Linked DNA regions of Homo sapiens. The protein of the gene in region 2 interacts with the protein of the main gene of each other region in a pairwise test. Each region holds a gene or a part of one and is shown on either strand. Other genes may lie near its edges. The genes, in order: WNK4, STK39, SLC12A2 and AATK.

The links.
Region 1: the proteins of STK39 (region 2) and WNK4 interact in a two-hybrid assay, tested with the Homo sapiens proteins (one study listed by BioGRID).
Region 3: the proteins of STK39 (region 2) and SLC12A2 interact in a two-hybrid assay, tested with the Homo sapiens proteins (one study listed by BioGRID).
Region 4: the proteins of STK39 (region 2) and AATK interact in a two-hybrid assay, tested with the Homo sapiens proteins (one study listed by BioGRID).

The regions. Positions count from the first base shown.
Region 1 is NC_000017.11:42,783,599-42,790,622, forward strand, and holds part of WNK4 (serine/threonine-protein kinase WNK4), read left to right. Parts: intron 1-338; coding exon 339-559; intron 560-823; coding exon 824-981; intron 982-1,498; coding exon 1,499-1,587; intron 1,588-1,667; coding exon 1,668-1,884; intron 1,885-3,679; coding exon 3,680-3,944; intron 3,945-4,179; coding exon 4,180-4,301; intron 4,302-4,531; coding exon 4,532-4,590; intron 4,591-4,691; coding exon 4,692-4,809; intron 4,810-5,082; coding exon 5,083-5,199; intron 5,200-7,024. UniProt on the Homo sapiens protein: Serine/threonine-protein kinase component of the WNK4-SPAK/OSR1 kinase cascade, which acts as a key regulator of ion transport in the distal nephron and blood pressure.
Region 2 is NC_000002.12:168,237,596-168,244,619, reverse strand, and holds part of STK39 (STE20/SPS1-related proline-alanine-rich protein kinase), read left to right. Parts: intron 1-7,024. UniProt on the Homo sapiens protein: Effector serine/threonine-protein kinase component of the WNK-SPAK/OSR1 kinase cascade, which is involved in various processes, such as ion transport, response to hypertonic stress and blood pressure.
Region 3 is NC_000005.10:128,086,755-128,093,778, forward strand, and holds part of SLC12A2 (solute carrier family 12 member 2), read left to right. Parts: intron 1-7,024. UniProt on the Homo sapiens protein: Cation-chloride cotransporter which mediates the electroneutral transport of chloride, potassium and/or sodium ions across the membrane. Plays a vital role in the regulation of ionic balance and cell volume.
Region 4 is NC_000017.11:81,128,213-81,135,236, reverse strand, and holds part of AATK (serine/threonine-protein kinase LMTK1), read left to right. Parts: exon of another isoform or gene 1-735; coding exon 736-869; intron 870-1,928; exon of another isoform or gene 1,929-2,041; intron 2,042-2,942; exon of another isoform or gene 2,943-3,192; intron 3,193-3,282; exon of another isoform or gene 3,283-3,335; intron 3,336-4,031; coding exon 4,032-4,176; intron 4,177-5,615; exon of another isoform or gene 5,616-6,079; intron 6,080-6,687; coding exon 6,688-6,767; intron 6,768-7,024. UniProt on the Homo sapiens protein: May be involved in neuronal differentiation.

The DNA.
Region 1 (7,024 bases), on a different chromosome or scaffold from region 2:
TCCTACTCATCATTCAAGATGCAACACAAAAGTATTTCCTCTCCGAAGCTCTCCCTCATGCTTGGGGCAGTTAGTCATCCCTTCCTGCGCTCCCACAGCACCTTGGCCGAGGCCCTATCTATCAATTTACTTCCCAACCCGTTTGGTAACGTCATGTCTATCCACCATGCCCCCTGACTCAGTTTCTCCCTGGGGCCGGGCAGACATAGGCTAGGAGAATGCTGGCAGAAGATGCGGAGGCGGCAGCAGGGTGCGGCAGGGGGGAACTTCCCAGTGGGGGGCTCCTTCCCGGAGGACGTGTCCCCCCACCAGGACTCTGGCTATGCGCCCTCCCCCAGGTACCTGAGGCGGTTCCGGGAGATGAAGCCGCGGGTCCTTCAGCGCTGGAGCCGCCAAATCCTGCGGGGACTTCATTTCCTACACTCCCGGGTTCCTCCCATCCTGCACCGGGATCTCAAGTGCGACAATGTCTTTATCACGGGACCTACTGGCTCTGTCAAAATCGGGGACCTGGGCCTGGCCACGCTCAAGCGCGCCTCCTTTGCCAAGAGTGTCATCGGTGCGTCTCTCCAGGAGGGTCCATGCCATTCCTTCCTCCCCCACCTCAGAAGAGAACCTGGGGACTCCCTCCCCTCAGCAAGGGCCTTCAAGGTCCACAAAACTACCAGACGACAGGGAAGCTGAGGAGACCTATGGCACCCACCTCAACCCCACTGTGGGCCGGGGTCACTTGCACTCGCAGGGTTGCCTGGGGCTGCCTAGCCCAGTGGGAAGGACGAGGCCAGAGTGCCCAGCAATCTGATCCCTGCTGTGGACCCTACAGGGACCCCGGAATTCATGGCCCCCGAGATGTACGAGGAAAAGTACGATGAGGCCGTGGACGTGTACGCGTTCGGCATGTGCATGCTGGAGATGGCCACCTCTGAGTACCCGTACTCCGAGTGCCAGAATGCCGCGCAAATCTACCGCAAGGTCACTTCGGTGAGAGGGATGGGGCTGGCGGGAAAGGCAATTCCAGGGCCACTTCCCCTTTTCCTGCGCCGGCCAGCCCGCAGTCAATGCCCTTTGCCTGCACGAAAACAGGCTAGACACAGAGTCGCCTTGGTGAACACAGAAGGATATTGAGTGCACACGCGCCCCCACCAGTACACGCTATTTAGAATAATAATATGTGTGGTGCTCCCAAGAGTTCACAAATGATTTCGCATCCCATCTCTCATCCAATCCTTCCAGCTGCCCTGTGAGGTGAGCGGGGCAAATGTTCCACCCTGCGATTTACAGATGAACAAACAGCGGGAGACTTGTTCAAGATCACACTGTAAATACTTGGGGGGGGGGCGGGGATTAGGATTTGAAATCACATCTTCCAGTAGCAGTCAGGCTTTTGCAACTGCACGCGCAGCTGCCTAAGGAGGGAGTGGAGTAAGGGGTGGGGGGTGGTGTCAAGCCGAGAGCTGGGGATCAGAGGACGGGAGGTGTCATGCAACCCCTTCCCCAGGGCAGAAAGCCGAACAGCTTCCACAAGGTGAAGATACCCGAGGTGAAGGAGATCATTGAAGGCTGCATCCGCACGGATAAGAACGAGAGGTGGGGGTGAAAGGGCAGAGCGTGGGTAGAATAGGGCCGCGGGCCGCGGCGGGCTCGGCTCACCCACGCGTCACCCTCAGGTTCACCATCCAGGACCTCCTGGCCCACGCCTTCTTCCGCGAGGAGCGCGGTGTGCACGTGGAACTAGCGGAGGAGGACGACGGCGAGAAGCCGGGCCTCAAGCTCTGGCTGCGCATGGAGGACGCGCGGCGCGGGGGGCGCCCACGGGACAACCAGGCCATCGAGTTCCTGTTCCAGCTGGGCCGGGACGCGGCCGAGGAGGTGGCACAGGAGATGGTGAGCGGAGGACAGACTGTGCTGCCACTGGACGTGTAAAGGACATTGACTCGAGGGGACAGTGCAACAGGGATGGGGCGCAGGAGGGGTGGCAGCGATGGGGGCGGGGCACCTCACCCCTCTCAAAATCTCCTGCAGCGTCTCCCTACCTCTCCAGCCCTAACTTACCCGCACGCACACCCAGTTTTCCTTTACAGAGGGAGCCCTGGGTCCTCCAGCGTCCCTGCTTTACCTCCAGCTGATCTGTTCTTCCTGGGATGCCCTTCTTGCCAATTCATCTTTTCCTTCTTTCCTCCCTCCCCATTTTTCTTTTTCTTTTTCTTCCAATATGATCAGAACCATCGATTTCGGGAAGCCGTCCCCTTTGGAGTCAAACTTAAATGCTTCTTTCCACTTCAGCATGTTCTCGGTTACAGCACTCCCCACTATCGGTCCTGTCTTAAACCTGAATAAGTTCCTATCTTTCTTCTCCACTAGACTATAAACTCCCTGAGGGCAGAGACTGTGTTTTATCGATTCTTCTATCCCTGGCAGTGCTTGGCACATAGTAAGAGCTCATTAATAGCCTACATCTGTACATGGCTTAAAGCACTTTCACATGCATTTGATCTTTGCTACCCATCCTGCATAGGGGGCAGTTTTATCTCAACTTGTTGATGAGGAAATGGAAATTCAGAGAGGTTGAATACCTTGTCCAGGGCCCCAAGTAAGTAAGTGGAAGAGCTGGATTGAAACTGAGGTGGTTCAGATTTTAAATCAGGTTACCCTTCCCCACCTCCTTTACTCATTCAGCAAAGCTTGCGGCTAAAAGGAATGAGGAGGTGATGAATGGAAGCTGGTAGAAGGGGAGAGGCATAAGATGCAAGGGCAGAAGCTTGGGGGCTGGCTTAGGAAGTCCTGAAGGGAGTATGGGATTCTTTTTTTGGGAGTAATGGAGTCTCACTCTGTCACCCAGGCTGGAGTGCAGTGGCGCTATCTCAGCTCATTGCAACCTCCGCCTCCTGGGTTCAAGCAATTCTCCTGCCTCCGCCTCCTGTGTAGCTGGGATTACAGGCAAAAGCCACAACGCCCAGCTAATTTTTGTATTTTTAGTAGGAACGGGGTTTCACCATGTTGGCCAGGCTGGTCTCGAACTCCTGACCTCAAGTGACCCACTAGTCTTGGCCTCCCAAATTGCTGGGATTACAGGTGTGAGCCACCGTGCCTGGCCGAGTATGGGATTCTTAATAGAGACATGACAGTTGCAAGGGTGGAGACCACCTACGGTAGGTCAAGAATCTGAGAATGTGTTAGAAATTTAGAGCAGGTCTCCATAGCACGGCCCAACCTGACCTGAGATCAAATCTTGATCCATTGCTGACAAGGGATTCTTGGCCTTGGCACTGTTGACATGTTTGTTTTAGGGACTGTCCTGTGCATTGTAGGATGTTGAGAAGAACCCCTGGCTTCCGCTCACTAGATTCAGTAGCACCTACCCTCCAGTTGTGGCAACTAAAAATGTCTCTAGATAGTGCCAAACATCTCTTCTTCCCATTGGAAACCACTGACTTACTGTATAACTATGAACCAGCTACTTCATTAATCTCTAAAAATCGAATGGTAAGATTTATCCCACAAGGTTGTTTGGAGGATCTAGTGATGATAATGTAAGGAGCTGCCAGTTAACAGACATAGTGGGTAATCAGTAAGTGTTGGTTTTCTTCCTCCCATATCCTGGAGTTCCCAAGAAGGCGTCCTGATGGATCTTTGATAGGGGGTCCCAAGCTGTGTTCCTCATCCCCCACCCCAATTCCAGGTGGCTCTGGGCTTGGTCTGTGAAGCCGATTACCAGCCAGTGGCCCGTGCAGTACGTGAACGGGTTGCTGCCATCCAGCGAAAGCGTGAGAAGCTGCGTAAAGCAAGGGAATTGGAGGCACTCCCACCAGAGCCAGGACCTCCACCAGCAACTGTGCCCATGGCCCCCGGTCCCCCCAGTGTCTTCCCCCCTGAGCCTGAGGAGCCAGAGGCAGACCAGCACCAGCCCTTCCTTTTCCGCCACGCCAGCTACTCATCTACCACTTGTAAGTCACCCCTGATCTTGAGACGTAGGTCCCAGAACACCTTGGCCTCTGCCCCCTACCCAGAAGTTCACCCCCACAGCAGTCACTTACCCTGCCTTCCACCTCTAGCCATGAAGCTCCCTCCAGGAAGGAACTCTCCCACAGCTCCAGGCCCCTCCTTGCTTAGGCAGGCCCCATCCTCTGCCACTATTCCCTTTTATTTCCCCTTTTTTTGATCCTCTCCCTCCCCAACCAGCGGATTGCGAGACTGATGGCTACCTCAGCTCCTCCGGCTTCCTGGATGCCTCAGACCCTGCCCTTCAGCCCCCTGGGGGGGTGCCATCCAGCCTGGCTGAGTCCCATCTCTGCCTGCCCTCGGTGAGAGGGGGTCGCATGGGGGGCTCCCAGCCATTCCAAGCCTATGACCTATCTCCCTCCTTGTGAAACCCAATCTCATGATCCAGTCCCATGTCCCTGGAAATCCACCATTCTTGCCCTCCTCTTCCCTAATTCCATCTCCCTAATATCCTCCCAGCATCCTTGACACCATCTCCCTAGATCTCAACAGTTATCTTCCCCTGACCTCATGAACCCTTATCCTGTTTCAGGCTTTTGCCCTATCCATTCCACGTTCTGGCCCTGGAAGTGACTTTTCCCCCGGGGACAGGTATGTTCTGGTACAAGTTGGGGTGCCAGGGTGAGACACCTGGGGCACTGGGGTCCCAGTGTCTGCTCTGACAGTCATTCTCTCTCCTTTCTCTTTAACAGCTATGCCTCAGATGCAGCTTCAGGCCTTAGCGATGTGGGAGAAGGGATGGGACAAATGAGGAGACCCCCAGGGAGGAATCTCCGGCGCAGACCCCGATCCCGGCTGCGGGTCACTAGTGTAAGGATGGAGTACAGGAGATAGAGAGTAACCTACAGGGCCAGGAGGGAAGTGTCAGGGGGAGGCGGGGGAGGTCACCCAGAAAACGGGAGAAGCAGTGTATGACTAGTACTCAAGAGGCGGCCAGTCTGGTTTCTAATACCAGACTTTAGAGGTGGGGTCTACTTATCTCCAAGTCCATTGTGGCTGCTGTCACTTGGCTGGGGTAGGGTGGAGACACAGCATGATGAAGAGGGCTTGACCTTCTCCCCTCTGCTGACTTTGAATCTGAAGGTCTCAGACCAGAATGACAGAGTGGTTGAGTGCCAGCTACAGACCCATAACAGCAAGATGGTGACCTTCCGATTTGATCTGGATGGGGACAGCCCGGAAGAGATTGCAGCTGCCATGGTGAGGGGGAGAGAGATGAGGACAGAGTGTTTGGATCTGGAACAAGAGTCTCCTTCCTGATGTCCGCTGGGGCTGAAACCCACTGATCCGACAGCAAGCATTTTTAAATCTCTGGTTGACACTTAGCACAGTAACGCTGAAGATGTCTCAGCCCTTGTTTTGGGGGAGATTTCTGTTTATCCAGTGAGGTTTGGCTTCTCAGCTGGAGCAATTTGAGACTCACATTGACCGGGTACACACAAGTGCTACGTATAAGTGCCTGGTAGATGTGCAATACTGTGGCTGTAGGTGAAGGATGGACTGGGCAGCAGGGGCAATGAGCTTACCCAGGATCTTGGCAAATGGGCAAGAAAGGCTGTGAAGGGTGGAAAGGCCATGAAGGGTGTCCCTGTGCAGGGACAGCATAAGCAAAGGCATTCCAAGTAGAGAGTGTCTTGGAATATGGGGCTGGGAGGGCTTCATGAGGAAACCACTATCACTGGAAGTAAAGATTCCTATAGGAGAGTTGTGGGGAGTGAAGCCGGGTAGGTAGAGTGGGCCCAGATTGTAGAATAGACAATGTTAAGAGTTAGGCAGAGGCCAGGCGTGGTGGCTCACACCTGTAATCCCAGCACTTTGGGAGGCCGAGGCCGAGGCAGGCAGATCACCCGAGGTCAGGAGTTCAAGACCAGCTTGGCCAACATGGTGAAACCCCGTCTCTACTAAAAAATACAAAAATTAGCTGGGTGTGGTGGCGCATGCCTGTAGTCCCAGCTACTTGGGAGGCTGAGGCAGGAGAATTGCTTGAACCCGGGAGGCGGAGGTTGCAGTGAGCCGAGATCACACCATTGCACTCCAGCCTGGGCGACAAGAGTGAGATTCTGTCTAAAAATAAATAAATAAATAAATAAATAAATAAATAAATAAATAAATAGAGAGGCAGAGCAGGCTAGGTCCAGTGGCTCACACCTGTAATCCCAGCACTTTGGGTGGATGAAGTAGGAGGATTGCTTGAGCCCAGGGGTTCAAGACCACCCTGGTAATATAATGAGACCCTATCTCTACAAAAAATTTAAAAAATTAGCCGTGTGTGGCGGCACATGCCTGTCATCCCAACTACTTGGGAGGCTGAGGTGGGAGGATCACTTGAGCCTGGGAGGTCAAGGCTGCAGTGAGCTTTGATCACGCCACTGCACTCCAGCCTGGAAGACAGAGTGAACTTTGTCTCAAAAAAAAACAAAAACAAAAAAACAAAAAGGCACAGTGTAACGTGACAGTAGGCTTTATGAAAATCATCTGCCATGGGATGTGGAAGGGGGAAGGGAAAATACCTGGGAGGTAGACCCAGGAAGCCATCTGTGGACAAAGGAGAGAGTGGCTTATGGGAGGGAAGAGGAGAAAGGGTGAATCTGAGGGTTGTTTCGGGAAAATAAGTTACTCTGTAATCCAGTAACCTATTGACGTAGTAGAGAACATAGTACATAGTAGATGCTCAATAAATATTTGCTGAGTTGATATGATTGGGAGTTAGGGAGAAGGGATGTCAAGGACAACTTGTAGGCCACCAAAGGAGAGTAGGAGAGTAGGCCACCAAAGGAGAGAGGAAATTAGAAATGAAAGAAGGTTTTTTTTAAGGAGGTCATGATGAGCTTGAGTGAAGAAGGGACAGCCAAGACAAGACCCTCCATAGCCATGGATATGGGTCAGGCAGGGCTGGAGAGATGTGGATGGAGGAGTAGTCAGTACAGAGTTGAGAGTGAAGGGAGATGAGCCGGCAAAGCCAGAGACACAGAGGGTTGCAGAGTGTGTCTCAGCGCATACCACCAGTTCTGGAGTGGGAAGCGGG
Region 2 (7,024 bases):
AAGACTGAACTTGTGGTTAAGCACTTTTGCTTAAACATTACACGCAGAAGTTAGCAGTTCAAACACTGAACCAGTTTCAACATGAATGCCAGTTGACAGCCTTTGCTTCTACCCGCCATACGGCAGGTGTCATATGATATGACTCCAGCAGTGTGAACCGTGACCAGCAGCAGGAGGCTCAGATGTGCCTGAACAGAAAACCAAAGGAGGCACCGTGTTTTAACTTTCCAGCATGGCACGGGCACGGAGGACTTTTTCTTCATTTCCTTCTGGGCAGAGTTTGGTCCCCCAGGATTAAGAGAGAATAAGTTTACTAAAATCCAAACAAAGCAGGTTCAGTTGTTTGACTTCAGTTTTAGAAAAATAAACACAGGATTTTGCAAACCTAAAAATAAAGTTTTCTCTTTATTGTATTGTTGTTCTTGTGTTTTAAAACGTCAGTGGAGAAATTGTAATGCTCTTAGGAGTATTCTGGTTCATAAGTTTATTCATGACCTGGAAATGATGTAAAATCGATGGGAGGGAGCTTTATATTTACAGAGGGGTTAAAAATGTTGGAAATTATTAAATTCCTTCTTCCAGACATTGATATCCTTGTCTTAGTAGATTTCAAATATTTCTGTCTTTTTGGAGGCTTTCCGACCTGTTTATACTCTTCAGCCTTGTTAATCTTTGTTCCTTACCTCTCTAAAGAAGGAATTTGGGGGTGAGTTGAGCCCCCAAAAGTAGGTACCCCTACCTTTAGAAGTATAAGGGGCACTTAAAGCTATGCCAGTTGAAAACTTAGTTTATTTGTTGGGGGTGTTAATAATATTACCTAGATTTGCTAAACAGGGAATGAAAGTGAATCATATAAGTGTTTACTTGGCCATCCGTAATGGAATGGAGCAGCCTCAATGAACTTCTCATTCAAAGAATTGTAGTCATTGAAGTACTAATTTCTGTATTTGAATTAGGTGATTCCAGCAATGTTGTTATCTTTGCTGAATTTCTTCTGAGAAACCCTAGACTCCTGCCTCAGCAGGAGTTTGTTTGATTTTCTTAGGGTTTTTGCAGGATGCACCTTTCTTTATGTAGTTTTATACTAGATTTCTCAGCATTGCTTCACTTTTGTCCCGGGTGGTCATTTAGAATGACCTAAAAGTAACAAATTGCCATCTTAGTCAACACGAAGAATTTGAGTTCTAGAATCCTGGACATGGTTTGACAGAGGGTTCCTTTGAATGCTTTATTTCTCTCCTGTGAGGCATTGTTTATCCATTCAGGTGCGTTTTACTCAGGTCCAGGTAATAGCACATATGGCCAGGTCTTTAAGGAGCAACAGCCTCTTGTAAAATGAGATTGTAAATAGCCCTGGGCATTCCCACTTTGCTCTGTGCTCTCAGAGTTTCTGTGGATTTCTATGGTTTGGGGGTTAGAATTGGTTTTTATAGATATCCTAGAGGCAGTTTGAGGACAGTGGTACCTTCGCTGGCGCTAGGGTAAGGGAGCCGGAGCACTGAGTGTGTTCTGATCTCCCAGACCTTTATACCAGGCTGCCTTGCTGCTGCAGTGGGTTCTTTGATCTTGATTAGTTTGTTTGTTGTTGTTTTTAAAATACTAAATGATGTCTGAAATGCTTTGTCTCAAGACAGGGCTTTGATTTTCATTTCATTTCACTTTCTTTTTTAATAAATAGAAAAATGTATATAGAAATGTTCTTTTGTATTTTGTATTTTTTTTTTTTTGATAAAGGGTCTCACTCTGTCACCCAGGCTAGAGTGCAGTGGTGCAATCATACCTCACTGCAGCCTCGAACTCTTGGGCTCAAGTGATCTTCCCACATCAGCCTCCTGAGTAGCTGGGTCTATAGGTGCAAACCATCATGCCTGCCTAATTTTTTTTTTCTTTTTTTATTTTTAAGAAATGGGGGTCTCACTATGTTGCCCAAGCTGCTCTTGAACTCCTCCGCTCAGCGATGCTCCGGCCTTGGCTTCCCAATGTGTTGGGATTACAGGCGTGAGCCACTGTGCCTGGCCTCTTTATATATATATATATATATATATATATATATATATATTTTTTTTTTTTTTTGTAAGAGTCTTGCTCTGTTGCCTGGGCTAGATTGCAGTGGCGCCATCTCAGTTCACTGCAGCCTCTGCCTCCTAGGTCCAAGCAGTTCTCCTGCCTCAGCCTCCCGAGTAGCTAGTATTACAGGCCTGGCTAATTTTTGTATTTTTTGATAGAAACAGGGTTTCACCATGTTGGCCAGGCTGGTCACAAACTCCTGGTCTGAAGTAACCCGCCTGCCTCAGCCTCCCAAGTTGCTGGGATTACAGCGTGAGTCACTGTGCCCGGCCTCTTTTGTATTATTTTTATTGTGGTAAAATATACACAACAAAAATTGTACCATTTTAACCGTTCTTAAAGTGTGCAATTCAGTAGCATTAATTATATTTACAAGATAAATACTCTTTTAAATGTGCTGTCATGGGGCTGGGGGGAGAGATCTCAAGATCTCTCTTGAAACTGTGGTAAAGTGACTGCAATCCTTTATTTATGCATTTGATTTTTAACTAGTGATATTATGAATTCTTCCCTGACTTTTATGGTTTATTGTATAGTACATTTTGTGATGGTGTTTGAAAATAAGTTGCAGCAGTGCCGGCTCTGGAGTCTGACAGCCTGGCCTGTTTCATGTCCTGCAATGGCGGTCACTGACGCTGCGACCTTGAGCAAATGACTTAGATGTGTCTGCACTCAGTTTCCTCATTGGTAACATAGGGATGATAAAAATAGGGTTGTGAGGAATGAGAGAATGTAAAGCACTGAGAATCGTGCCTGGCACACAGCATGCTTTCAATTAGTCTTAGCCATAACTTCTATAGACTTCATTTGCTAATCAGATGCAAGTTATCAGGAGAGAACACAGTCCTATCTTTGGCAGGATTCTGGAGTGGCTTGAAGATTTCTGTGCTATGTTTCTAGCAGGGAGGAAGTGGGAAAGAGAGGTTGTTCCCTATTCCCACTCTTGTGCTGGGCTGCTGGAAGGGGCTTACAAGGGGAGAGGCCCCTGGGGATCTGGCTTCCCCTTGCACCTCCACTGCTGTGGGAGGAAACTGAAGAGACCTGTGGAGCTCCTGGCAATTTGGACAGCTCAGGGGTTTAGGTGCCAAATGGCCCTCTGACAAGTGATGAGAGCATCCTGCGGGAAGGTTGCTGAAGAGGAGCAGCCCATTATGAGAGGGCTCCGAGAACAACCTGCTAGGACTGCACTTTTCCTCCACCTCTGAGTTTGCCCGGAGGCTGCCATGCTGGCAGGAAATGCTGCTGACTAAAAGAAACGCTCCCTGTGTGTCCCAGCCAGTGCGAGGACAGAGGCCTTCATTTTCAGATAAAGTCATCACCATTGCTTCCCTGTCTCCTTCTTTCCCTCTTTGCTTTTCCCTCAGTTTATAAATATTCTCAAGCCTGTCTCTTATGTTTAAATGACAAAAGAGAACAAAACAAAACACTCTCCCTACTTCTTTCTCCTCTGGCTACTCGGTTATCTCGTTTCTTCCTTTCACTGCTAAATTGTTGGAAGGAACCTCCCATTCCCTCTCAGCCCACTGCAGTCTGGCTTCTGCCCTTTCCCTAAGAAACCCAAGTTACTCTCTGAAATCACTGTGACTCTTCTGTGGCCAGAGCCAGTGGACACTGCAGTCCTTTTCTCTGCTCTCTGCAGGGTTAGGTGCCATCTTTCATTCTCCTTTTGGAAAGGCATTTGCTTGAGCTTCCATGCCATGCCTTCCTTCTGGACTTCCTGTACTCCCTTGCCTGCCCCAGATCCACATCTCTGTCTGTCTGAAGCTTCAATTACCACATCAAATGCTGAGGGTCTTCCTGACTGTATACCAGTGTTTGGACTACCTTTTTAATGTCTTCGTTTGAATGTTTCACAGGAACTTCATACAGTTAAACTCATTGTCTCTCCACCCTGGCCTCAGTCCTAATCTTGTTTCTTCTATATTCATCATCTTTAGAGCCCTCAAGGGCAAAACCTGCTGGCCATCCTATACTTTCCTGTCTTTGTCCATCTCTCACATCTGTTTGGTCACCAAGTCCTAAATACTCCACCTCCTTGAGATCTTCTTTGATTTGACTCTGACTCTTCATGTCAGCCACCACTGGTTTAGTTCAGGCCCTTATCGATTCTTATTTGGATTATTGTAATAATTTCCTAACCAGGTTCCTTTTTTCCATTCTTGTTTCTGGCTGTAGTGTGCATTGCTACCAGAAAGATACTGCTATACCAAAATTCTTGATCACGTTGCTCCCAGGCTGAAATGCCTTTAGTAGCTCTCCCGTCACCCTCAAGACTTAATTTGAAGCACAGTGTTTAAGGTCTTTTGGGAATTGTCTCTTGCCTCCCTTTTCAGCCACATCTTGTAATTTCCAGTCTCAGGACAGACTCTCCAGCCAGTGGGAACCTTTTGCAGTTGCTGAAATGCCTCTTCTAGGCAAGATTTCCCTCTGCTTGGAACACCATTCCAAGACCCTTCCCTTCCATTTTTCATCTATGTAGCAAAGAGCTCTGTCTTTTCTTTTAAATATTGCCCTTATTGAAGTATAATATGCATGTGGAAAAGTGTACATATAAAAAATGTATATCTTGGTGCATGTTCATGAATTGAACACACCATGTAACCAGCACCCTGACTGGGCCTCTCTTCTCATACCCTGAACAAGTGATTTCTTGTCACACAAACAATCTCTGCCTCTAGAGCCCCCCTCCCCCCTTGCCCTTCAGGCTCTGTTGGGTCTTTCGCTCCCTGGCAGTTGTCACACTATCTGCAAATTGTATTTTCCTTGCCAGCCTGGCTCTAGACTGTTAAGTCTTCCTTGAGGACAGGGTCTCTCATCTCCCTACCCTGCATGTCATAATAGATATTTAATAAATGTTTTCTGGATGAAGTTCTGAGTTTTGGGGATAAATACTCCTTCCTCACCTTGTGGAGGAGGAACATTGCCTGACGTCTAAAAATTTGCCTCACTGGATCCTGAGGATTTGATCTTGCCCGTGGTTAATGATGGGGTTTATTTAGTTGCGTTTGGGCCAATCAGCTTAAAGGGCTCTGTAGAAATTAGCTCATTAATCCTCACAGATCAAGAGTAAGCACTTTGAGTGCGTCCACCTGCCTGTGTTGTGGAGGTAGGCAGGCAGAGGCCTGGCTCTCCTGAGGTCTTAGGACTGAGAGGTGGCCTTTCTGGCTGGATTAAAGGACCCAGAGCTCCCTGCCACAGTTCTGGCATCCGTAGACATTGTAGGGTGGAGTGGGGAAGTCCCACACTGCCCTTCAAAAGCTCTAGAGCTTTCTTTTCTTTTGTATATCAGTGATCTCTCTCTCTTGCTGTTCATGTATTTATATATAACACTCACCTTGAAGTTCTGTGGAGCCTCTTCCTGTGTAGGAATCAGGGCTGCTGGAGACGATCAGGGATGCAGGTGAAACACAGGAGCAGAATTGCAGAACAAGTGGCTTTCAAAGGTTGTTAGGATGGCAGGAGTTCTATTTTTATAACTTATAAGGGACTGACATGATAGGATGGCTGTGGTACCTGCTAAGACCATAGAACCGGGTCATTCTAATAGATGTTATAATTCCTTTACAGTGTACTTTTTGGGAAAGTTTTTTTTTCCTATTTAAATAAAATTCTCCATGTAATCATGTGAAGTCATACGTTTTCCTCTAGGATAGTTGTGTTTAGATTATACCAAAACAGCTCTTAGTTGAAGTGATTCAAGTGTTTCTTTTTTCCCTATCTGCCATCAATTGGCCAAGTTTTTGATACTAGACAAGAATTCAATATATTAATTAAAAAGTCATTTCAGACTTGGCTTAACTGAAAAGCAGAAGAGAAAAATCCTTTAGAGAATGGATTGGCATACTTTATTTCTAGAGTCGATTTAGATAAATACTTTGGAATCCGATGTGAGTAAATGATATGTTTCACATTTCTTCTCACTTGCCAAACAGTTATTTGAGAATAAACTCTGGCTTAGCTTTAAGAAACTTCTTGGACATTGAGGATTGAGATTAATTGACCTTTTAAACTGATTGTGTATTTTGATATATGGGAAAACATTTTAAGATAGAAATGGTAGAGACCTCTACATTCATATTATCCCTGACTTTATTTTCAAACTTCTTCCAGGTAAGTGGCATTTAGTATAACTCTCAGAAGCCTAGTATTGGGGGTGCTCATGTGATTCTTCCCTTAGGTAAAAAATATACATTTTATTGACATTTATGGGTTTAGGTTTCTAACTTTTAGTTACCACTGGAGCTATTTGTCAGAAAAAACTAGATGGAAAGTAGAGGTGGATGACTTTCTGCCCTGTGAATGATAGATCTTCATTCAGGGAGTATTTTGGAGCCAGTGACCTGTGACAGTTGTGAGACTTCTCATAATCATTCTGTGGATGGTTGGGGTCTTAGAAGAAGTAATGATTTTGTTTTGAACTGGTTGCATCAGTTTGAACCAGAGTTTGTACTAAGGGTATTCCAACTGCTTTATTTCCTACTCTGTTTAGTCTGGGGATTGAAAAAGGATTACATTTTGGGTAGGTTGGTGCCTATTGACCTATCCTGTGTAGCTTAGATTTTAATTTGAATCATCTGGTTCTCTTTCTTTCTCTCAGGCAATGTCACTATCTCTGTTTGTTTAATTATGGGGTGACTCAAGAAAGCAAAGGAAGAGGAGCAGCAGACGGGGTTTCCTGGGGAAGGAATGGCAGGTCATGGCTGGTTTTTATAAGTGAGTTCCTAAGTGAGAAGTGGTACAAGAATATAGAGAGAATTAGGAAATTTAATTTTAGAAGAGACCAAAGGAAAAAAAATCCATCCCAGCTGCTTTGTCTTGTAACTGAAAACTCTCTAATGGCCAAAGTTGAAGAAACTTGCCTATGGTCCCAAAGTCCTTAGAATCCCAGGCTCCAACCCTTCATGCTAAAAACTCTCAATAAATTAGGTATTGATGGGACGTATCTCAAAATAATAAG
Region 3 (7,024 bases), on a different chromosome or scaffold from region 2:
GTAGTACAAATATGACTATACATCACTGTCGAAAGAGGGGCAGACAGGAGGGGTTATAACAGGTTGGCTGGATCCCCAGAAGTTGTCCCTTACTCTGTCTAAATTGACTTCTACCTCTCTAACACCTTCTGTAATGTTTCTAGCCTTCAGTGAATTATAATATTTAGAATTTTTATAACACCTAATTCTAGCAGTCGATTGATTGGCATATACTCTACTTTGGTCTACTAAGTGCATAATTATCTACCATGGGACTAACTCTGTGTTGGGAACTACAGAAGAAGAAAAGAAGTAAAATACTTCAGAAACTTGTTAGGGAAAAGGACTGGATTGTCTTCCCTCCAGTTGAATTCCTTTCATTATCCATCACTGACTTTTTAAAAGTATTTTGTCTAGATGTCCAACTGTAGGGGAAAAGATAAATATCCTTGGTGCATCTTGCTATATTATATAGCCATTCTAGGACCAGTAGGCATGAGTTCTCCATTTATGAGTTATTGGGGAAGGGGGTATCTTAGATGTTGACAACATGCTTGTGACATTGTGGGATTATGTGGTGATTAGCAAACCAGTTACTGCTTCTGCCTAGACAGACATTAACAAAGTAGTTGGACAAATAACATAGTTAATAACTGTTTTTTAAGTGTTACGAAAGAAAAGGATACTTGTAAAGATAGAATAGGACCTAATTTTAATTGGGTTTTGGGAAGGCGTTTTTTTGAGAAGTATGACATTGAAGCTGAGACCTGAAGGGTAAGTTGATGATTGGGTGGAATGACAGTCCTGACCAAAGGGACAGCGCACATGAAGGTAATGGGGTGAGAAAGAGTGGTATATTAACATAACTAAAAGGAGATAACTATTTTTCATTATAAATGTAGTGGGACGCTATTGAAGAATTTTGTGTGGGGTAGCCACATGACCCATTTTGTTTTAACATCTTTAGGCTCTGGGTGGAGAATGGATTGGCAGGGGCAAGAATGGAAGCAAAGAGACTCAAGTGATTACTGTGGTCTGGTTGAGAGATAGTAAAGGTTGGTGGCACAAAGGATTGGATGTGGGAGTGAGAAAGAAGCTGACTTGTAGATTTTGAACTTGAGAAACTTAATAGATGTTGGTACTGTTGCTTGAGATGAGAAATACTGGAGGAGGAATAGATTTGGTGGTTGGGAGAAGTTTGTATTTGAGGCTATTCTGTTTCAGTAGCCTATAAAGACAAAGACAACTTATTCCAAGAGTCGTGGAGGAGGCTCTGTGTGTGTGTGTGTGTGTGTGTGTGTGTGTGTCTGTATATAAACATATGTAAATATATATATTTACATATAAAGATTTGGTTGCTTAAGGTCATGGACTAAATTACTTAGGGAGAGTGGTAGATAAGAGAACAGAAAATAGGGTCTGGCATTGGACTTGGAGATTGTTTAAAGGTCTGTTAGAGATTGAGGAGCCATTAGCAAAGGAAATTAAGGAAGAGCTGCCATACTGTCAAATAGCCTGGAGAGCAGTGTTGGGGGAAGCTGAGAGAAAAGAGTTTTTGGAAAGGCAGAAACTCTTCAAAGCTGATGCTAGGAATTGATTTAAAAATGTATATACGTACACACACAGAGTGAAAAATCAAAGTATGGATTTTTGGCCCTACAAGAAGAAATAAAAGGTGGAGGGTAACAAAGTATTTGATGGACATCTTCAACATGTATGATGGAATGCTAGATTATCAAATGTGGAAAGTGGAGTGGTAGACAATCCATACTAGCTCCTACTGGATTTAAAGCATTATTAAAGTAGTTTTTTGTTTTTGTTTGTTTGTTTTTTGTGTGTGTGTTTTACTATTTTGTGTTTTACTATTTTGACTGCTAAACCATAATTTCTAATATTTTTGTTTTTAAAGGTAGCATTACCATTGCAGTTGTCCTTGGGCCAAGGCTTAGGAGCCTTTTGCTGGTGGTATGTCAAGGGTTTCTATATGATTCCTGTATTTTTGCCTTTCTCATTAACAAGGGGAAAGGTCAAGGGAGCAACTATATTGTCTTTCATGTGTCACTTTGCTTGTTGGATTTTCATTAATTCCTAAGAAATAGGTCTTATACACATTTTACTCAAGATGAAATGAGCTAATAGAAACAGAAGAAATTGGCCAGGTGCGGTGGCTCACTCCTGTAATCCCAGCACTTTGGGAGGCCGAGGCGGGTGGATCACCTGAGGTCAGAAGTTCGAGACCAGCCTTAACAACATGGTGAAACCCTGTCTCTACTAAAAATACAAAATTAGCCAGGCGTGGTGGCGCATGCCTGTAATCCCAGCTATTTGGGTGGCTGAGGCAGGAGAATTGCTTGAACCCAGGAGGTGGAGATTGCAGTGAGCCAAGATTGCGCCATTGCACTCCAGCCTGGGCAACAAGAGCAAAACTTTGTCTCCAAAAAAAAAAAAAAAAAGAAAGAAACACAAGAAATTGCTTAATAGCCACTTTTACAAAAAGTGCAGCTGGAGGACAGGCACCATGGTAGGAGCCTGTTGTCCCAGCTGCTTGGGAGGCTGAGGCAGGAGGATTGCTTGAGCCCAGGAGTTTGAGACTGTAGTGCACTGTGATTATGCCTGTGAACAGCCACTGCGCTTCAGCATGGGCAAAACAGCAAGACCCTGTCTAAAAAAAAATAGTAGTACAGCTCAATTTGGACTTCACATCCAGGTTTTTCTGACTTTAATGCTAGGACATAGTAGCAGCAGGTTCTTCTCTCTTTATCTTTTCTATCCCTTAGACCTGTTCTAAGATAACAAAGATGTTGAGGGGGACCCCTTGGGGATTACCACCACCATTTCTCTACCTTGAACTCCTGAGAGTTGAATGATTATATAACTGACAGAAATCAAGAGATGTGATGATGTAAATATTATTATGACTTCTTCACTAGCATCTGTATAAGTGTTTATCTTCATACAGAGAATAGGCACTTAATAAAGATTTGTTCATGGAATGTACAAATCAGGTGAGCAGTTCCTGTCACTTAACAAGGACTTTAAGTAAAACACTAAATAATTACAGAATCTCCTCTAACCATGAGCTGCTTCTCTGAGTGGGCTGTGTTGATGCCTAGTCAAGAAATTTCACACACTATTAATCATTTCAGTGTATAGCTTTAGTCCTTGAAAGTCACCCTGGGGGAACAAGAATGTGTCTCTCGAGGGTGAGGGGAAGAGTAGAGTAGTGTCCAGAACTGGGTAAAGGTGGGACCCTGATAAGAAATATTTACATGTGGCAAAGTCAAATTTGGCTGATTTCACAGTTTTGCCAGGGGCTTTGCCCTGCTAAACCCATGCTACTTGCCATTGAAGTCAGGCTTACCCATAATACTAAATGCATTCCCCCAGGTGTACACTGACTGAAGTAGTTCTACAATGCGGCAAACAGGTAAAATTGCAGCTACTGCTTTGTTAAATAGAAAACAGCTTTTAATTTTTAGCATAAAAATTTCCTGGGTAGAAGGAAAGAAATTTTGGGATTTAAAATGTAGCAAAAAATCAGTACACTGCTAAATTGATATCTTCTCTGTGTGTATTTATGTTCATACATTTTAAAATCCTGTGAGACTAGAATTTAAAGGACCAAAATAGAGTTTCTTGGTTCTTATGTGTGGAGTGTGTTTGCTTTCAATGATATTTCATTATATGTTACATATATATATTTGGGAAGTCTATAGTATAGTCCTATGCTGAAGTGAAATAAATGTGAACCTAGTTATTCAACAAATCCTTGTTGAACATCAACAACAACACTGTTCTAAATGCTGGGGATATAGCAGTAAACAAAACAAAGTCATGGGGCTTTCATTCTAGCGGTAGGAGACAATAAACAAACAAAATTAAAGCAGGGCGAGGAAAATTAAAGGTGGCTAGATGATGGCTGGGTGATGCTGTTTTAGCATTGTTAGGGAAGACCTCTGATATGTGAGCAGGCTCTAGAAAGGGGTGACCCCCATGCAGATACCAGGGAAAGAACACTCTAGGCAGAGGAACAACAGATACCAAGACCCTGAGATGGGAGTGTGCTTGGTGTGATGGAGAGACAGGGAGGTCAGCAAGACCGAATTGATGAGGCAGTGTGATAAAGTCAGGGGGTAGTGAGGACCAAATAGCGCAGAACCTTGCAGATCATGATAAAGACTTAGGATTTTACTCTGAGTGATTTAGGGGAAGGCATTGTAGGGTTTTGAGCACAGATTTGACATGATCTGACTTATGTTTTCAAAATACCACGCTGATTGTTGTGTAGAGAATATACTGTAAGGGGGCAAGAGTAGAAGGCAGGAAACCAGTTAGAAGCCTACTGCAATGGTTCCATTAAGATGATAATGACTTTTACTAAGGTAGTAGTGATTGATACAATGAGAGGTGTTCAGATGCTGGATGTGTTTCAGAGGTAGAATTGTTGGGATTTGCTGATGGTTTGGATGAGGGGATGTATGGACAGAGTAATACTAGGGTTTTCCCCCTATTTAGAATGGAGTTGATATTAATGGAGAAGTCTGTGAGAAGGGCAGGTTTGGGAGATGGACTCAAGATAGGGTTTCATTCTACAAATTAGTTCTCCAATGAGGCAAACAGGTAAAATTGCAGATACTGGTTTGTTAAATAGTAGAACTTAAGAAAACAGCTTTCATTTTTAGCGTAAAAATGTGCTTTTGCTCTTCAGGTAAAACCATGAAAACTAGTAGTCTTTCAAATACTGTACAAAGGGGTAGGGAACTAGTGGGTTGATTCCACAAAGTGAAAGCCCACTGAGGGTGAGCAACAAGGAAAATTACTTAAAATACTGAAGTTAAAAACATTAGTGGTGTCTCATTTAAACCATGAAAGCTACTATCAGCTGAGGCCCTCCTTTGTCTTTTTCCATTTTCACTAGGATCTCTACCAACACTAGCTTAAAGCTATTATGAAAAACTTGGAGCTGGTAGAGAACTTGGGGGTTTCTAATTGGAAGAAGGGGGAAAGCCAAAAAGAAAAAATAGCTTAGTGGAATGTTGACTCTCAGCAGAAGCTAATTATGGCTAGTACACTCATAGTATCATTGGACTCAGAAATTTCCCTGCCTTAATTTTTAAAAAAATTCTGTGCTTTTTCTGAATAGTCACAAATTAGATATTCATCTAGGTTCAGAATTCTGGAAACCTGTGGGATAGTTCTTTGTTGGGTAAGTGTGAATTAGTTCTTCCATCAGTTTAGTTTCAAACAGAATTTGGTATGGTATGCTAGCCATTTTGGAGACTTTTGCAAGGGAGCGTAGGTGGTTTGGCAGGGCAGGCTTGAGTATTCCAGTGGGGAAAGACTTAGAGGACCCTAATCATTAGAGACCTGCCCTTCCCACAGACTTCTCCATTAATATCAACTCCATTCTAAATAGGTATTACTCTGTCCATACATCCCCATCCAGACTATCAGCAAATCTGAACAATTATACGTTTGAAACACATCCAGTATCTCAATACCTCTCATTGTATCAGTCACAACCACTTTGGTAAAAGCCCATTATCATCTTAATGGAACCATTGCAGTAGCCAAGATGAGAGGAAGGGGGTGATTAAAACATTTAGCTGCAATTCAAGAATTGGGCTATAGGGCTGACGGTCTTGGAAAGAGGTAGGAAACTTCACAGAGCATGTCTGGACTGAGGACCCCAGTCCGAAGTTTGGACTAGCAGTTGTTGTGATTATGGCCTGTTACCATTTAAGGTCTTTATCAGTGCTGTCCGATAGAAATATAATATGAACTACATATGTCATTTAAAAAAGTAAAGAATCAGGCAAAATTAATTTATAATATACCGTATTTTATTTGACACTGTGTCTAAAACATTCATTGCAGATATAATGAATATTAAAACATTTATAATGAGATATCTCAATTTCTTTTTTTTGTACAAAGTTTGAAACCCCGTGTGTTTTTCACATACAGTACAGCACATCTCAATTCAGACAAACATTTCAATGGTGTTGAAGTAGTAGCTCCTTGTGACCTTTGATTACTATATTGGACAGTGTAGATGTAAACAGTACTTGGCAGTTTGGTTCTGAGGTCCTATGATTTTCATTTTTCTTCTTGGATATTTAACTGTTCCTGTCAATAGTTTACTTCTGTTAAAGAAATTTGAGTAGCTTCTATCTGACAGAAAAAGCGGAATATTTTATTTAACTCTCATTCCTTTCCAGGTACAAGCTCTTTCCTTCCTTCCTCAGCCAGACTTGTTGAGAGTATTGTTTATAATTGCCGTCTTTCCTTCCTTACCTTTTACTCAAACTGCTGTAGTGTGGCTTCTATTTTGCATAAATAGTTCTTGTTAAAGTCACAAGTGATCTCCATTCTTATCACAAATTTCAGGAAGTTTTTGTTTTGTTCTGTTTTGTTTTGTTTTGAGCAGTGTTCAGCTTTCAGGCAGCATTTGGTGTTCTTTTGAAGTGTTTTGGTCACTTCCTTGGCTTCTTAGTTTTCCTTCTGCCTTTCTGACTCTTTCAGCCTCGCATCCTTTGCAGTCGCCTCCTTCTCTAACCTGAACATCCTCAAGGCTTTATTTGGACTTTTCTCCTTCCTTGTTCCTCTTTTTTCTCTCCTTATGCTACATCATCTGTAGTCCAATGACTCCCGAAATTTCGTCTTCTACCCACACTCCTCTGAGTTCTGGGTATCCAATGCTTGCTTGACATTTTTGTTTTATGTCTCAAAGATAACTCAAGCTCACAAACTTAGTATTTCTTCCCATTCCCTCCAGAAACAAGAATCCAGGCCCTCTGCCAGTGTGTGCTATATCTCTCGGAATGGTACCACTATTCATCATACTGCAAAAGTGAGAAACCTATGAGTCATCCTTGACACTTTTCTCTCATTCCCCCATCCAATCACTGAGTTCTGTCAACTTGAATTTCTAAATATTCTTTTCATCTAAGCTGCTACCATCCTATTAGGTTGGTGTAAAAGTAATTGCATTTTTTGACATTGAAAGTAATGCCAAAAACCGCAATGACTTTTGCACCAACAA
Region 4 (7,024 bases), on a different chromosome or scaffold from region 2:
GCCGGGCTCAGCTCAATACTCCGAAGTTGGGAGGGATGCTGTACTGTCAGTTCCCCTCTGGGATGAGGGGCTCCATGGACCAGCAGCTGCAGAACGGGGTTTCCCCATGGTTCCCAGGACAGAAGCAGCACCAGAGGGGCCTGGCAGTGGGTTTGGCAAGGGGACGGATTCGAGGCAGCAGGTGGCACACGGGAGCCCTGCTGCCTGGCAGAGGCAGCACCACCTTCTCAGGGACAGTGAGGTCCCCGCACCTCAGAGGCTGGAAGGGCCTTGAGCCCCCGCTGTCCAGAGCCTGGTGTGTGGCCAGCAGATAGCAGCCAGCAACATGGTCTCCCGTGTTTGACAGAGTCCATGTTCCCTTCCCAGCCCCAGAGGGGCAAGGTGGGGTGACTGGGATCTGGGAGGGAGATGGGGGTCCCCCTGTAGCCCCTGAGACCCTGACCTCTCAGGGGTATCTGAACCCCAGAATTGGGAACTGGGCAGGCTCTGGTCACTCTGCCAACCCTATGTCCCCCTGGCGAAGCCAGGGTGGTGTCCAGTGGCTGGCTGCAGGACTGCAGGCTCTGGCCACCTCCTCGCCACACTGTGAGGTGTGGGGTCTGGGGTGAGAGGTCAGGGTGCTGAGGCCCAGCCTGGAATGCAGCAAGTCCAGGTGGGGCTGTGGAGCCCAGAGCAGGGGCAGGGGCCTGGCCGGCCCTCAGCCATGGCCACTCTCACCACACTGCTCTCCCGCAGACGGCGCCCCGCTCAGCGAGCTGTCCTGGCCATCCTCCCTCGCCGTGGTGGCTGTGTCTTTCTCCGGGCTCTTCGCCGTCATCGTCCTCATGCTGGCCTGCCTGTGCTGTAAGAAGGGCGGTATCGGGTTCAAGGTGAGGCCTGGGGGCCGCGGGAGCTGTCGTGGGATCCCGCAGGCAAGGCCTGTAGCGTCCACTTGACCCTGAGCTTCCCTCCTTCCTGGGGCCATCAAGGTGGCTGCTGGGTGGCCGTAGTTGCTGTGGGGCCACCTGGGGACCACGTGGACCCTGGCCCAGGGACTCCATAGCTCCTCCTCAGGGACCTGCCCCAGCTTCCTCGACTTTGAGGCCCTCTGTGGGGGGCGTGGTCTGACGCTCCCACTCCAGCCTGGGGTTGGGCCCGAGCACTCACGGAGGCTGAGGACAGCCTTGCAGGGGGCGTCGGGGGCTCTGGAGCTGGTGTGGGAGGGGGCTTGCCTCCCTAGAGGCCCGACTCCTGGTGGAGGAGCTGCCTCTGCAAGGGGCTCTCACGTCCCTCCGAATTCAATCTGCAAAGGGGAGTCCGGGCTGCCCAGACAAGCTTCCCGGCACAGGGACCTTCTTGCCAGTTGGAGTCACCTTGCGCGGGGTATCTTCTGCCTTCTGGAGGGGACGATGTGTGATGCTAGAGCCCAGCCTGCTGGTTAGGGAGCCCCGCCAAGGGTGAGGCCTGGCCTCACTAGGCTGCCCCTCTGGAGGCCAAGGCCCCTGGCCAAGGACAGGTGCCAAGCACTGCTCCTCCCCCTGCAAACCCCCAGCCCACCTCCAGCTGTAACTCTGAGCAGCAGGGAGGGCCAGGCAGAAGGAACCCCGGCCAGCATCGCCTCCCCCTCCCAGAGTCTCCATGGGTCCCATTCCTGCTGATGAGCAAATGACACCCTGGCCTGGACCTCTGGTGGTTCACACGCCCACGGGGGTCAGCCCCACCCCTGGGCCAGAGGTCAGATTCCTACGCCAGGAGAAGTCAGGGAGGGAGGAGGGTGGGAGGAGGCATTCTGCAGCGCGCACAGCACCCTGTCTGTATCTCAGGGTGCCTTCCTACTAAGTGACCCATGACTCAGCTGGCGCCACCCCCATTTGGGAGACAGTCCCAGAGTCCTCCCTGCCCCTGGTATGTCATGACGCAGAATGGGCCAAGGAGCTGGCTCTGCCCACCTGTCCCGCTGGCCTGGCAGGTGACGGTGCTGGATGTGGCCTTTTTGCCTTTTCTAAAGGCCACATTTTCCAGCCCATTCAACCTTCCAGAGCCCTCTGAAGTGGCCACAGGCCCCATCAACCAGTGAGGAGCTGCGTGCCTGGGGGGCAAAGCTGTGGCCCCAGGCTGTGGGGTCTGCACTCCTGCCCAGAGCCCCCACCCTGCTCTGGGATGTACCCCTGACCCGCTGGCACCAGGGGCCAGGCCAGGCCGCGCAGGCGCCTTCCTGGGGATCCCGAGGCCAGAGCCTCAAGGTCTTGGCGGGAGCAGGAGTGGAGGTGGGGCCTGGGTGGGACGAGTGGGGCTATTGTATAAGTGGCCCCTCCTTGGGGCACTGTAAGAACAAGGCCCCAAACAAGGGCTGGCCATAGCTCCTCCTCCTGCGCCCTCCTCACCTCCTTGGGAACATGGTGCCCGGAACATTCCAGCACCAGTGTGCCCCTGGGAAGTCCTGCCTCCACACTGGGCTCCCTCCTGGGATTTGGGGACCTGCGCTGGGCTCCCTGGTGGGGAGCTGTGCTGAGGGAAGGGGCTGGGCAGGCCCCCAATGCTGACCCTGTGCTACCTGATTGCACGCTGTATCGGCAGGACCCGGCTGGCCCCCGGGCAGCAGGTAATGCCTGGAGCCCGGGCCCGACCCCAGGGAGAGACAGCATCTGTGTCCTGGGCCCCTCTACAAAGCCCAGATGGGTGGGGCCAGGCCGGGGCTGGGATTGGAGGGCCCAAGAGGGGGCTTCTGGGGTGGTCTTCTGGGTCCCGGGGAGGGGAAGTTGCCCACGCAGCACCTGCGTCCCCCATCCCTGAGTGGCTGTGTGCTCCGAAAGGGCAGGCTGGGCCTGGCCTGCGGGAATACCGACAGAGCCACCTGCCCCTCTCTTTGCAGCCCAGGGAAGGGAGGCGTCCCCAGGGTCACACGTCGTACTTGAGGAGCCCAGGCCTCCCCTCCCACTGCACCTGCCTGTCCTCGGACTCACCAGCCCGGGTGCTGGCCAGCATCCAGCTGGAAGTCCCTTGACTCCTCTGAGCCTCAGCTTCCCCACCAGGGCACTGGGGGTTGTGAGGAAGGACAGAAAGGCTGTACCAAGTGCTCAGGGATTGGGGCTGTCATTGTGTGCCTGGAGCAATTGCTTTCAGCTGGGCCCAGGACTTTGGAGACTTTGGCTCTCAGCGCAGGAATGTGCCCTGGACTTGGGGGTGGGGTATCCCCTATACAGGTGCAGCCTCTACATTTCAAAATAGCAGCCTGGCAGGGAGTGGCCCAGCCCTAGGCTGCACGGGGCCAGGCTCTTAAGGAGTTCTGGGAGCTCCGGAGGTGGTGTGGCCACCAGGTGAAGGTCCAAGGCTGCTGGGGCAGATGGCGGTGGCAGGTGGGCTGCCCAGGGTAAAGGTGGCCGGTTGGCTCTGGGCTCCCAGACATCCAGGAATGCTCCTTGTCCCGGCAGGGGTGGGGGCACTTAATTGCTTCTCCCACAGGACTGTGGGGCAGGGGGTGATGGAATTCCTGTCCCCGAAGCTGCGCCATGGGAGGGTGGGACCCCAGGCACAGCCCGGGGTGAGGGGCTGCTCGGGATGTGGGTGGCTGAGAGGTGCTGGGGGCTGATTCTGGATGGGCAGGGCCAGCTGGCCTGAGTGCCCTCACCTCTGTCCCTTGGTTCCCTGCCTCTAGACCCTCAGGCCCCAAGGTGGGGCTCAGCCTGGGCTGCCCGCCAGGGAGGGATGGGGGAACTGAGGCCAGGCTGAGGCGCTGGTGCCTACAGCTCATCGCGCCCTTTCTGGAGTCTGAGATGGGTCCTCTTGGCTCTGGGATCTGCCTCTGGCCCCTCATGGAACAACTGAGCCTCTGGTCGGGGGCGTGGGGGTCAGCAAGAGGAGACAGATGGAAGGGCAGTTAGCAGGGGTGCTGGGCCATTGGCCTGCAGGGGCGGTGGCTCCAACTCTGGGCCGAGCACCCCCTCCTGCCCTGCCCTGGGAGCTCGGCCCTGGAAGAAAGGGGCCTTTCCAGGCCCAGCCACACCCTTCCTTGACCTGCGAGAAGCCCCGCTCATGCCCGGCCCGGCCCGCAGGAGTTTGAGAATGCGGAGGGGGACGAGTACGCAGCCGACCTGGCGCAGGGCTCCCCGGCCACGGCAGCACAGAACGGGCCCGACGTGTACGTCCTGCCACTCACGGAGGTCTCCTTGCCCATGGCCAAGCAGCCTGGGCGCTCAGGTGAGGGCTGGGTGGGGAGATGGGGTGGCCTCCCTCCGGGGCCCAGGTGCTGGGCGTTGGGTGTGATCTGGGGAGACCGGAAGACTCAGCTCTGGAGTGGGGGCAGCACAGGGCTGGGAGTGGCCTGTGGGGTAGACGCAGTGTGCAGCCCTGGACTCCCTGTGGCTGCGTCACAGGCCGCACTGTGGGGCCAAAGGTGCATGTACCTCTTTCTCCTGGGCCTGGGGGCCGGCCAGGGGTTGGCAGGGTCCAGGACAGCCCTCGGCCTCCAGCCTCCCCTGCCCAAGGGGCTGCTATGCACAGGGACAGGGGTGGGCACGGGGCAGGGGTGGGCACTGGGGCAGGGGTGCGGGCTCTCTGGTCCTGGACATGGCCATGTGCTGGGGGCAGGGGCTCTTCTGCAGTCCAGGGATGCTTGACCCCAGATTCCTGCCCCCTTGAGCGCCAGCCCTTCAGGGACACGGGTTCCATTGTGCATGGCAGGAGGAGGGGCGCTGGTGGGGCCCGTGTGGGCGGGTGGTGAATTAGCCTTTCACTCAGGCTGCGAGGAGGGGCCGAGGGGTGGGGCTGACCCAGGAGTGCAGGTGCAGGCAGGGCCTCAGCCACAGCCTCATCTGCCCCCATCCTAGGGTCCTAGGCCGACCACTCACATGGGGCGGACGTGCTGGGGAGTTTGGGGGTGAATGGCCAGGCTTCAGGACCTCCCAGTTCTGTCTTGGAGCCTAGGTGGTGGGTGCGGGTCCCTCCAGAGCTATCAGATCTCAAGCCCCCTCCCAGGAAGCTTCCAGCCTGAGGCTTCCCCCATCACTGCCCACCCCCAGCTCCTCTGGGAACACAGAGGCAGGAGGGGTATCAGGCCAGTGGGAGGGGCCCCTGCCAGCCCTGTTGGGGCTCTGTTGGCACCAGGGCCTGTTACTGCGGTGCCATGCAGGCCACCTCACCTGCTCTGAGCCGTGCCTGGCTGGACCCTGAGAGCTGGCTATGAACTGTGCCTGGCTGGGCCCTGAGAGCCTAGCCTTCATCGTGGGCTGAGAGGCCCAAGGCACTGGTCTGGGACCTAGAGAGGGCCCCCAGCCCCCAGCTTTGGAGCCAAGGCCTCAACGCCTGTCCTACTCTGCCCCATCTCCTGGAGGACAGGTTCCCAGTTCGGCAGGAATCAGGGCTGGCACTTGAGCTCGAGTACATCTGTGGGCGGGCGCGGAGGACTGCAGCCACCCACTCAGAGCGTGAGGCCCTCGGACCTTCCCGGATGGCTGTGGGGGTCCCTGAGCCCTGTGCTGACCCTGCTGGGAGCTGCCAGGGACCATCCGAGGGGGTACTGCCCTTGGGTCCAGGGGCAGGTGTGTGCCTGGCCCCCGAAGATTCTCAGAGCCACCTCTGGAGGATTGCTGTGGGGACTGGGGTTGGCGAACAGGAGCCCGAAAGAAGGCACTGGTTACCTGTCTCTCTACTTTTGCAGCTCTGGTTTCAGTTTTCTGGGGGAGGAATGTGCTTCTAGGGAGGAGAGAGATTGGGGTGAGGTCAGAAAAGTAGCCCCAGAGGTCAGCGGGGAGAAACCTGGGCAATGGCCCCACCCGCTGGGGACCGCAGAGAAGGACGGCTGCCTGCTGCCTCCGGCAGTGCCCAGGGCCTCTGAACTGTCTCAGCACCCATGGTCAGGACCCCCACACTTGCTCAGGGACAGTGTGGGCCTGGGCGCCCCAGGGTGAGAGAGGGCCGCCCAGACAGGCTGGGCTCAGGACACAGCACCCGGTGGGCCCACACGCTCAATTCTGCCCTGCCCCGCCTCTACATTCTCTGGGTCTCCAGGCCCTGGAAGGAGCCCCCTCCCCCTGGGCTCTCCTGGCAGCCAGGCTCAGACCCAGGCCTGTCAGCCCTCTGGGCAGTTGACGTGGGAGCAGAATTCGGGGAATCCCTCGGGGCGTGGGCAGGCATGAGTGGGCTCTGCCAGCGCTGGCCCCTTCGTCCCGGGCCTCACTGACCCTTCCTCCCGCTGACCTCACCCGGCCTGGCCCTCGGGGAGAATGGGCCAGTGTGCTCCGTGCGGGGCCGTGCCAAGCAGCCCCCAACAAAGGAGCCTTTGGTGCGCCCGGCGTGGGATGCCAGCCTGCGGCAGGGTGGGGGTGGGCCGCTCCAGTGCCCTCTCTGTGCCGTGGCCCCAGCCTCTTGCTCAGCCACACTGCCTGCCTGGTGCAGCCCATGTGACGGGTCGAGCTCCGGGCCCTGCTGTCCCTGGCCGGGCTATCCCAGTGGCTTCAGGCACCTTCTCCAGACCTACCCAGAAAGATGCCCGGATGGATCCTGCAGCTCCGTGGCTTTTCTGGGAAGCAGCGGCCCCTGCTCTCAAGAGACCCTGGCTCCTGATGGTGGCCCCAAGGTTGCCAGCTGGTGCTAGGGACTCAGGACAGTTTCCCAGAAAAGGCCAAGCGGGCAGCCCCTCCAGGGGCCGGGTGAGGAAGCTGGGGGGTGCGGAGGCCACACTGGGTCCCTGAACCCCCTGCTTGGTTACAGTGCAGCTCCTCAAGTCCACAGACGTGGGCCGGCACAGCCTCCTGTACCTGAAGGAAATCGGCCGTGGCTGGTTCGGGAAGGTACGTGTCCCGCCTGGGAGGGAGGACTCCCGCCTGGGAGGCAGAAGGGACACAGGGCTGCAGACCTGCTCCTCCTAGGAGCCACCCCAGCCCCGACGGTCCCTTCTTCAGTCTCTGGGCCCTGCTGGACCCTTCCCCAGGGAGGTCCTCAGCATCTGGCTGCATCCCCTTCTCCCTAGGGGGTCCTGGGGTCAGAGGTACCTGGGGAGGGGCCCTGGGAGGGAGAGGAGCAGCCTCTTGCTCATGGCCTTCCCCTG